Linked DNA regions of Homo sapiens: region 2 is linked to region 1. The links come from fine-mapping of genetic effects on gene expression. Tissue or cell type: whole blood. Region 1 holds a variant in brackets; the other region holds the start of a gene. All regions are shown on one strand. Distances are between the middles of the regions.

The links. PIP is the estimated chance that this variant, and not a neighbour inherited with it, causes the effect.
Region 2: CALHM6-AS1 starts here. The variant in region 1 is fine-mapped to the expression of CALHM6-AS1 in whole blood (INTERVAL, PIP above 0.99).

What each region holds. Positions count from the first base shown.
Region 1 is chr6:116,558,486-116,564,181 of GRCh38, forward strand. It overlaps CALHM4 (calcium homeostasis modulator family member 4), which reads left to right. Exons shown (of 2, transcript NM_001366078.2): 2 at 1-2,642. Among named protein-coding and RNA genes, the nearest start is that of CALHM4, 7.6 kb to the left of the region's middle. The variant A/G (reference allele first, on the strand shown) is at 1,699.
Region 2 is chr6:116,461,564-116,465,563 of GRCh38, forward strand. It overlaps CALHM6-AS1 (CALHM6 antisense RNA 1), which reads right to left and starts at 2,141. Exons shown (of 2, transcript NR_174951.1): 1 at 2,056-2,141. It overlaps CALHM6 (calcium homeostasis modulator family member 6), which reads left to right. Exons shown (of 3, transcript NM_001010919.3): 2 at 309-891; 3 at 1,720-2,208. The coding sequence starts at 367. The coding sequence ends at 2,142. RefSeq lists enhancers at 218-327, 338-417 and a silencer at 798-877.

The DNA.
Region 1 (5,696 bases):
GAAAATTAATATTTCTGAGTGCCATTTTGTCATCTGCACATTGTAGCTACCTCCTAGAGCTATTATGAGAATTAAACATGATAATACAAAGTGTTTAGCACAGTGTCTTTCATAAAAATAGATGCTAATGAATGTTACTTTCTCTCTTTCTCTTTTGCATTCCATGTCTTCTATTCACCATTTTCCCTGCCTCTATTTTCTGGTTTTATCAGTTTCTACCTTTATATAATGTCCAGAACTTTTCACAGCCTCCCCCTCTTTCTTCAGACCTAAATATCTGACCTTTTGGGAAGCAGGACAGAAACCTCTTTCTAATCCAGTAACATGTGAGGGAGAAGCCCATGCAGGAAGCTCTTGAGTTACTGTACTATAACCTGGGGACAATGATATATTATTTATCATTATTAGTATCATGTTATTTGTAGCACCTCCATACTAGGAGCATTTTTATGGCCACTACATATAAAGTTTCTTCTAGAAAGCTTCTCCACTGTGCTCTACTCCAGAGATACCATTTGTACCTTTTCATTACCAAATTGCACCTTTGCACTCAAAATCCATTTGTGAAACCAAAACTGCAGTCTGTACTTGTATATCCATTATCTGTAACTACAAAAGAGGATAATTCCTGCTTGGTGTTGCTCTGCCTGGCTTTACTAAATGCAGCCTACAGTATCTGGACAATTTTCTAATTTATCTAGATTATTTCTGTGATATATAGTGACTCGTGCCTGATTTTTGCTACGTTCACTGAAGCAACTTGCTCATTAGCAAAAATAAGTTGTCTGAGGGCATTCTGTCTATTTATTTCTTCAGTCAAAACAATGCTTACTGGACAGTGGACCAACTGCCAATAGTCAATCCAATTTTCAAGATTCACTTTCAAGGAGACCAAGGAACTTGACTATACTATCTAAAATGCAATCAATTACTTGGTAATCTACTTTTACACAATTATGGAAGGTTTTATTTTCTATAAAGTTCTGGGTCCTTGAACTTAATAGGAAGAAGCAGAAAATGAATTTTTAAGAAATCAAAATGTTTTCAGGTTTTGTTTTGTCCTTCAATAAGAGACTGCATATTGTAGCTCTTTGCTGGGACAGGAGAACTGTCCTGCCCTCACCATTACTCATCTGTCATTTGACCTTGGACAAATCAGTCCATCTCTCTGGACCCTGGATTTTTTTCATCTATACAATAAAAGGGATGATAATATTTTACCTCTTGGAAGAAAATAACTGAACTAAATAACTGCTTAAGGTCTCTTTTACATCAAGTACGATTTTTATGTTTATGTTTATATATATATACAGGTCAATATGCATACATCTTTCTGAAATGGTAGTAGACCCACGTTGCTTCTCTTGGAAGGAAAATGTCCCCAACTCTGAATCTGAGCTTTCTCTGAAAACATTTACTGGCATTCCACTTTTAAAAGAATGTTAATGTACTGATCTTTTTCAAGTCATCAAGGAAAGCCATTCCAGTTTGTCTACTAACTCTACACTCAGTACTGATATGACATTACATGAAGGATGTTAAAAATACAAATAGAAGTATGTTGTGGAAGGCAACTAGGGTTCTAGTTCCACACTGATACAAATGAACTGTGTAAATATGGAATGTCACATCCATTTTGTTCCCTAAGGTCTGCTCCAGTTCTAAAATTCTGTTCCTATATAACTGATAATTTTTTAT[A/G]TTCTTCTGTATTGGAACATACTAGTTAAATGAACACTTTCAACCATGCTCAGAATTAGTTTATTAGTTGTCAGGAACTATACCACAGTAAAGACTCTTCAATAAGATTTTCGGTTAACAACAAAATCAAAGAATATTTGAAGTTATAGCATTACATCATCAGAAAGAAGATTAATAGTTGTTTATACCCTAATACCAGGAAACTATTTCCACTAGCTTCTGAAGCCCTTCTACATCAAACTCTTTTAGTGTATGATGTAAAAATTTTATATTTTGAGCCAGTTAATCATGATCTTCCCCTATAACTTTCTGGCAAAGGATTCTAAGTATTCGTTGGCTCTTCTACATGGCTTCAGAATGATTTATAGCATCTATGTGAACATTTAAAAGGTAGTACACACCCCTGGGATTTCATCTTACAGTACATTATCTATCTCAGATCAAATAAATGGAATTTTTAGTATTTTGGGGGGGGGGGGGGCTATGGTCTATAGCATTTTTTTGCTCCACAGCTAGTTAAATGAAACTTTTTCATTAAGAACATGGTACTCCCTCCCCTTTATGCTTAATGGATTTATGTAATTATAAAACATATAATTAAAGTCAATTATGTGCTAATACTACTTTATATTTTGCTACCAAATGCTTTTGGCTACCACATCAAACCCTGGAGCTTGACATATATAAACCTGCTCCTTTCTTAATTTCATTAGCTCCTCCACGGTCCCATCATGACCTAAGTTGCCACCTTCCCAGGAGACAAATACAAACCAATGTGTAAATGTGTTTTACTCAGCTTTCTTTATGTTTTCCAAAGCTGAATTGTAGAACCGCATTTATACTCTGTCCTTCTCTGTGTCTCTTTTCTCTGTTCTCAGTCTTCCATTCATTTTTTGTAGAAATTCTAATGCATGATTGTAATAAACAACAGTGAGATTTTGCTAGTTGTTTTCTTGCATTTGGTTTGTATCACAAAGGGACATCACATTAATCCTATAAAAGTTTGAAGTATCATGGCCAACCAAAGGCCTTCTGAATGCAAGACTAGGTAGATATTTGCTATCTTGAAAACATAAGGTGTGGAGATACAACTTTAACTTCTAAATAGAGTCTACAGAAATTTAGTACCAGTCAATAAAGAACAGATACTGGCAGGCTGAAGAGCGTAGACTGCTACGCAACTGGCTTCTTGAGCTGGGGGGCGTAAATCCATAAATGTGACGTCTGGACCGAAGAGCAATAAATGGTATTTCCAGAGAGGCAAACTGTAGTATTCCTGACCTGATTATTTTTCTGCAGTAACAACCAAGTATGATTAAGCTTCTGTAATTTCAGTATACCAGAACTTCAGGAACAAAACAAAACGCATGGATTTCAAGTATGGTTTCCTCTGCTGCCACCCAGTGGTCAAAACAGGTGTCTGCACCCATCTGTGGTGACAGTAGTAGTAGCAAAAACAAGTAGTGCTCTCTGTATGCCAGTAACTTTTAACAAATTATCCTAGTTACACCTTTGGACACGTGACAAATAGTCACCCATTAGAAAGTAACTTGCTGAAATGATATTAAATAACATTAATTCTTTATTAATTCATTGAGTAACTGAGATACAGAGAAGTAATTGAGATACAGAGAAATCAAGCAATGTGCCAAGGGTCACGTAAGGGTTGAAGCCAGAATCCACCCCTGGACCCTGCACTCTGCAGCACTGTGCTGGAATACAGCAATGAGGTACGTTATCAATCTTCCAAGGCCTTGTAGGTGTTAGGAGGATATCCCTAATACTTCTGTCGATGAATAACTGAAACATCCTGGGCTCTGACCGTGTGTTGCCATATCACGTAAGTCGCTCTCTTTCCACCTAAATCATACCTGCATACATCAGGGCCCACTTTCAAGGCACTATGCTTCTTAGCAAAGTGACCTGTCCACTCTCACTGGGGCATAACATTGGACCTGATCTCCCCAACAGCCAGTGGCACTGATTCTATTAGCCGCAGACTAACAACAAACCTGCTCTGGAGTATCAGGTATTCTCTTTCTCATGCATGGCATGGGCATGGCACTACTGTAATCTGTCCATTTATTTTCAGTAGGCCATAGTTATGAAGTGTCAAAACAGGGATCAGGAAAACACCATCTCCTATCATTTATGTTGTCTTGCACAAGCCAGCCTCTCTGGGACTTCAATTTTCCCCTCCACGAGAAAGGAGAGGGTGGTTAAATTGCAAAGGTGGTTGATTAAACCATTTTGAATCACAGACCCCTTTGACGAGCCATTCTGGGGAAGCTGTTCTGAGGACATATCCAGTACATACACATAGACACCAGCTCACATACCTCAGAGTTCTCAATACCGTGGTAGGCTAAATAATGGCTCCCTGAGGATGTCCATATGCTTATCCCTGGAACCTGTGAATGTGACTCAATATGGCAAAAGAGACTTTGCAGATAGATCAAGGTAAGGATTTTGAGATGTGAAGATATAATCCTGGATTTTCTAGGTGGGCCCAATGTAATCACAAGGGTGCTTATAAAAGGACTGTAGGAGGAATCCGAGTCAGAGAGAAGGCAAAGTGACAACAGAAAAGGAGTGTCAAAAAATGTCGGAGTTACGCAGCTTGAGAAAGACTCTATCAGCCATTGCTGGCTTTGAAGATAAGGGGGTCATGAGCTAAAGAATGTGGGCAGTCCCTAGAAACTGGAAAAAGCCAGGAAATGGACTCTCTCCAAGAGCCTCCAGAAGGAACACAGCTCTGCTGACACTTTGCTTTTAGCCTGCTCAGAGCTGTGTCTGACCTGTGCCAGAAAAGTAGTAACTACATACTGTTCTTTTAGTTACAGAACTATAAAATAATACATTTGCAGTGTTTTAAACACTAAATTTGTGGTAATTTGTTACAGTGGCAATAGGAAGCTAATATACAAGCCAATACACTTCAGGAGCTTATGAGCCCACAAGCCTGTTGAATGAGACTCCCTGGATTAAGACCTCTAGGTCATTTCTAACACAAGCATCCTGATTCTATATGTGCTGACACTCTGCCTTGGGCAAAACTGTTGCTCCTGGAAAACAAATATATCTATAATATAATATTTTATGAATAAAATACAATGTGCTCTAATATTTTACAGTGTGCTAAAGTGCAGAAAGAGCTGAATATAAACTTCATAGGCATTTGTGGATGTTTTACCTTAAGCTGCAAATAAACATTTAAATATATTTTTCTTCTGTAGTTGTCAGTTAGTGGCATCAACAGAACTATTTACTATAAATTATTTCATAATGTAGACATATGCTAGCATTTCAAATGTGAGAAAGCAAATGTGAAAGCACAATCAATCAATCTCTGGATCTACATGGTGTTTTATTGATTGCACAAATTTCATAAGTCGATAATAGGTGACCTATTATTGATAAGTTTATGCCTGCCGTCATTCTTTCATGTTGAAATAACTTGAATTTGGAAAAGCTGCCTACAAAATAAGCATCTTTAGTCCAATGATGATTTAATAGATCCTATGCTGTCCTGTGAGACAGGTTTATATTTCATGGGGAAGATAATGCAAAAAGCAAAATTCATCCAAGTTATTACTGGCAGAGCTAGAATAATAATTTAATATGCGATTCAGTACTGCGCGCCATCAGGGAGCCTGATGTTTTGAGCTCCTTCTAGGAAATTGTCTGGGGCTCATTGGCATGGGGTGCCCTGAGCCAGACCAGACTGCGGGGACCCGTTTCTTCCCTTCCCCACATCCCTACACTCTTCGACCCTCTTCCCACAGCATGGCATGCCGGGGTGTTCTAGCTGGAAGTGCCAGCTCCCACCTGCAGCCCTGGAGCCGGCGAGGTGGTGGCAGCAGCAGGTCCTTTCCTTGGTGTGCCGCTGCACTGGGCCCAGGGTGGTCTCCACTGTGTGCCGCGGATCAGGCTGTCCTCTGGGGTGGTGTGTCTACTACCAGTTCTCTGATGGCTTTTGAGGGGCCTTACAGATTGCT
Region 2 (4,000 bases), 98 kb before region 1:
CCTGGTTCGTTGTCAGATTGGTGGTAATAAAGGAACAAGGTCAACCTTCTGTCAGAGTTCCTGAATTGGGGGAGGAAGATAACTGGTGCCTCTGCCTTTGGAATGGGGTGGGTGCCAGAGAAGTCAAGGTCCTGGGGGTGTTTGCTTGCCTGGTTCTGTTAACCAGAGGTGGTGTGGCTGAAATGAGAAAGTGAAACTTTAGGAAGGTCTGAGAAGCCCTCTTCCCTTTAAAAAAAAAAAAAAAAAGGCTGCTTCTCGCAGAGTGGAAAGCCCCGGTCCCCATCCCACCAAAACCATTTGACAAGCAGGACAACGAAGAGGCAGAAGGATCTGGGCCTGTGCGCGACGCCCCGGGGGACGAGGCTCATGGAGAAGTTTCGGGCGGTGCTGGACCTGCACGTCAAGCACCACAGCGCCTTGGGCTACGGCCTGGTGACCCTGCTGACGGCGGGCGGGGAGCGCATCTTCTCCGCCGTGGCATTCCAGTGCCCGTGCAGCGCCGCCTGGAACCTGCCCTACGGCCTGGTCTTCTTGCTGGTGCCGGCGCTCGCGCTCTTCCTCCTGGGCTACGTGCTGAGCGCACGCACGTGGCGCCTGCTCACCGGATGCTGCTCCAGCGCCCGCGCGAGTTGCGGATCGGCGCTGCGCGGCTCCCTGGTGTGCACGCAAATCAGCGCGGCCGCCGCGCTCGCGCCCCTCACCTGGGTGGCCGTGGCGCTGCTCGGGGGCGCCTTTTACGAGTGCGCGGCCACCGGGAGCGCGGCCTTCGCGCAGCGCCTGTGCCTCGGCCGCAACCGCAGCTGCGCCGCGGAGCTGCCGCTGGTGCCGTGCAACCAGGCCAAGGCGTCGGACGTGCAGGACCTCCTGAAGGATCTGAAGGCTCAGTCGCAGGTCTGCCGCTGGCGCTGGGGGCGTTTGGGAGGAGCCGAGAGGCCGAGCTTTCTCAGGGCCGCTGGGGTGAGGGAAAAATCGGTGACTTTTCTCCAGATATACAGTACCCTAAGAAAATCTAGAATGGCTCCTTGCATCTAATTTGCCGTCAAGAGAATATCTGAATAAAACGAATGAAAAGGAGAAAAACGCATTCCCGTAGTATCTGGCACTGTACATGAATCGTGGAAAGTGGGAGTGAGAGTGGGCACGCCTACTCAGTGCCAGATACTGCGCTAGGCCCTTGACCTCCTGCATTATTTTTACGTCTCACAACAGCTCTGTTGGGTGCAAAATTGCGGTTTTGCCATTACAAGTAATAGTTTCGTATCTCCCCTATATAGTGACTTCACTGAGTCTAAGTAAAGTTGTTTGCCCAGCCAATAGAAAGCAGAATTGTTAGAATTAAAGGGGTCTATAGAATAAAATGGGTTTGTCTGGCTCTAAAGCCACCACTGGACTTAGAAAGCTCAGAGGTTCTTTAAAATGAACACTTCTTTCCCAGGATTTGCAGAAATTCCACATTTTGAGTTCTAAGGGAATGGTATGGGCTCCTCCCTGGGCAGAATCATAGTGCATAACTTGGACTACAGTTGACTTTCCAAACGAGAAGTTGTACTGGGGGGCTAGGGAGGTTACTGCGACACCTTACTCTTAAGGAATTAAGACCTAAAACTGTTGCTTGTTCATCATCATAACTGGCGAGTAGTTGAAACTTTATCTGAGGATTTTTAAATTTCTTGTAAAAAACCAAGTAACTAAATTACTATTTTGTTGTGTTTTCTTAAGGTGTTGGGCTGGATCTTGATAGCAGTTGTTATCATCATTCTTCTGATTTTTACATCTGTCACCCGATGCCTATCTCCAGTTAGTTTTCTGCAGCTGAAATTCTGGAAAATCTATTTGGAACAGGAGCAGCAGATCCTTAAAAGTAAAGCCACAGAGCATGCAACTGAATTGGCAAAAGAGAATATTAAATGTTTCTTTGAGGGCTCGCATCCAAAAGAATATAACACTCCAAGCATGAAAGAGTGGCAGCAAATTTCATCACTGTATACTTTCAATCCGAAGGGCCAGTACTACAGCATGTTGCACAAATATGTCAACAGAAAAGAGAAGACTCACAGTATCAGGTCTACTGAAGGAGATACGGTGATTCCTGTTCTTGGCTTTGTAGATTCATCTGGTATAAACAGCACTCCTGAGTTATGACCTTTTGAATGAGTAGAAAAAAAAATTGTTTTGAATTATTGCTTTATTAAAAAATAAACATTGGTATTTTTTGAGTGCTTTTTTTCTTCCAAATTGTGGAATTTTATATCTGAAATTAAAATATAGAGCTTAACCTCTTTATAATATTATTTAAAACAAACAAAAAAAGAAAGTGATTCATCCAAAGTAAAAGCTAGAACTAAAAGAAGTCTTATATCCTTGTTCTAGAGTCCTTTTCAAATAAAAGACTTTTGGAGCAAAAACAGTGGCAGAACAATTGAACTTCAGACATTTCTGTTAGGTTATCTGATGTTAATTTCAAGTTCATTTTCTTGCCCACAACATCTTGTTAGGAACTTTAAAATTACGGCATTCTAGCTGGTTCTATAGCACAATTGATGGCACATTGGGCTTCTAGTCGAGCCTGCTGTGGTCATTCAAAAATTAGAGCATTTTATGACTCTAATAGGGTTACAATAATAAATTAATCATGAAAAGGAAAATAAACTTTGTAAAATACGAAATTTGAAAAAGTAGTTAAGAGAATTGCAGGCAACAAGTGTTGTTTTTAGTTTATAGGATCAGAGGAAAAGTGTTAAAGCTTATATGTTATGGTAAATATAAACTAAACACAAAAGTAGAGAGGATAGTTTTATGAGCCTCCAAGTAGTTGTTACACAGCTTCAACAGAGTTGGGAAGTCAGATAAAACCAATACCAAACAAATAAATGCAAATTGTGACCTGATTTAGATTAGGGGAGAAGGGATTTGGGGAAGCTTTTTAAAAACTGAATCCTGTAGGGTAGCAAGAAGGAGCATTTCAGTCATACAGATAAAACCAATACCATACAAAGAAATGCAAATTGTGACCTGATTTAGATTAGGGGAGAAGGGATTTGAGGAAACTTTTTGAAAACTGAATCCTGTAGGGTAGCAAGAAGGAGCATTTCAGTCCTACTGAAGGAACAGTATGTGCAAAGACTAGGGAGAAAAAGATGTTAGCAGAGTTGGAAACCTGAAAGGCGACTGAAAAAAATGAGCAAGGGACTGAGTGTGCAGTGCCTGGAAACCATGAGAAGGATTTTGGTTTTCATCATATGAGCATTTTAGGAAGATGGTTTGCTTTCCTTGAGAGAAAAGGAATGACATGGGAAGCAGGAGAGCCAGGGTAGAAGGAGAGAGACTAATCAGGAGGCCACTACAGTGGAAATAGGTGGGAGTGAACTTGAACTGAGTGGATGGGGACCAAAATGGAAAAAGTAGATAGATTCAAGGTAGACTTTGTACATAGATGTGGCAGGATTTGTTGATAGAAAGTCTCTAAAGACGGTGAGAGCAATTATATCTACGGATAAAATTCTGTAACTTTATAATGCCGGGACTTTTCAGCGATCCTTGCCTTCCATTAGCTTGTCATTCCTGCCCATTCCCCAAATTTGTGGCTGTTTTCTGAATTTTAAAATATGAGATAAAAAAACTTTAAACTATAAAATAATTGAGCACTGGTCATATTTAGCCCTTCTTCCTCTTTTGGCAGAAGCTTATGCTGATTTCTGTTTACCTTTTTCTGCATAAGGCCGTTAAAAAGAACTAACCTACAGGGCAGAATATCCTGTTGTTGAGAGTCATGCGTAACAAGAAAGTTGGCAGCAGAAACAGCGTGATCAGCTTTTTTTCATTCCCTAAAAGAATGCTTTTGAAAATCATATCATACCTAGTTTCATTTTTACTTCCTTTATTTCATTTTCCAATTGCTGCTTCCTTTTTCGTCTGAGACAGGATCTCACTCTGTCACCCAGGCTGGAGTGTAGTGGCAAGATCTTGGCTCACCGCAAACTCTGCCTCCCTGACTCAAGTG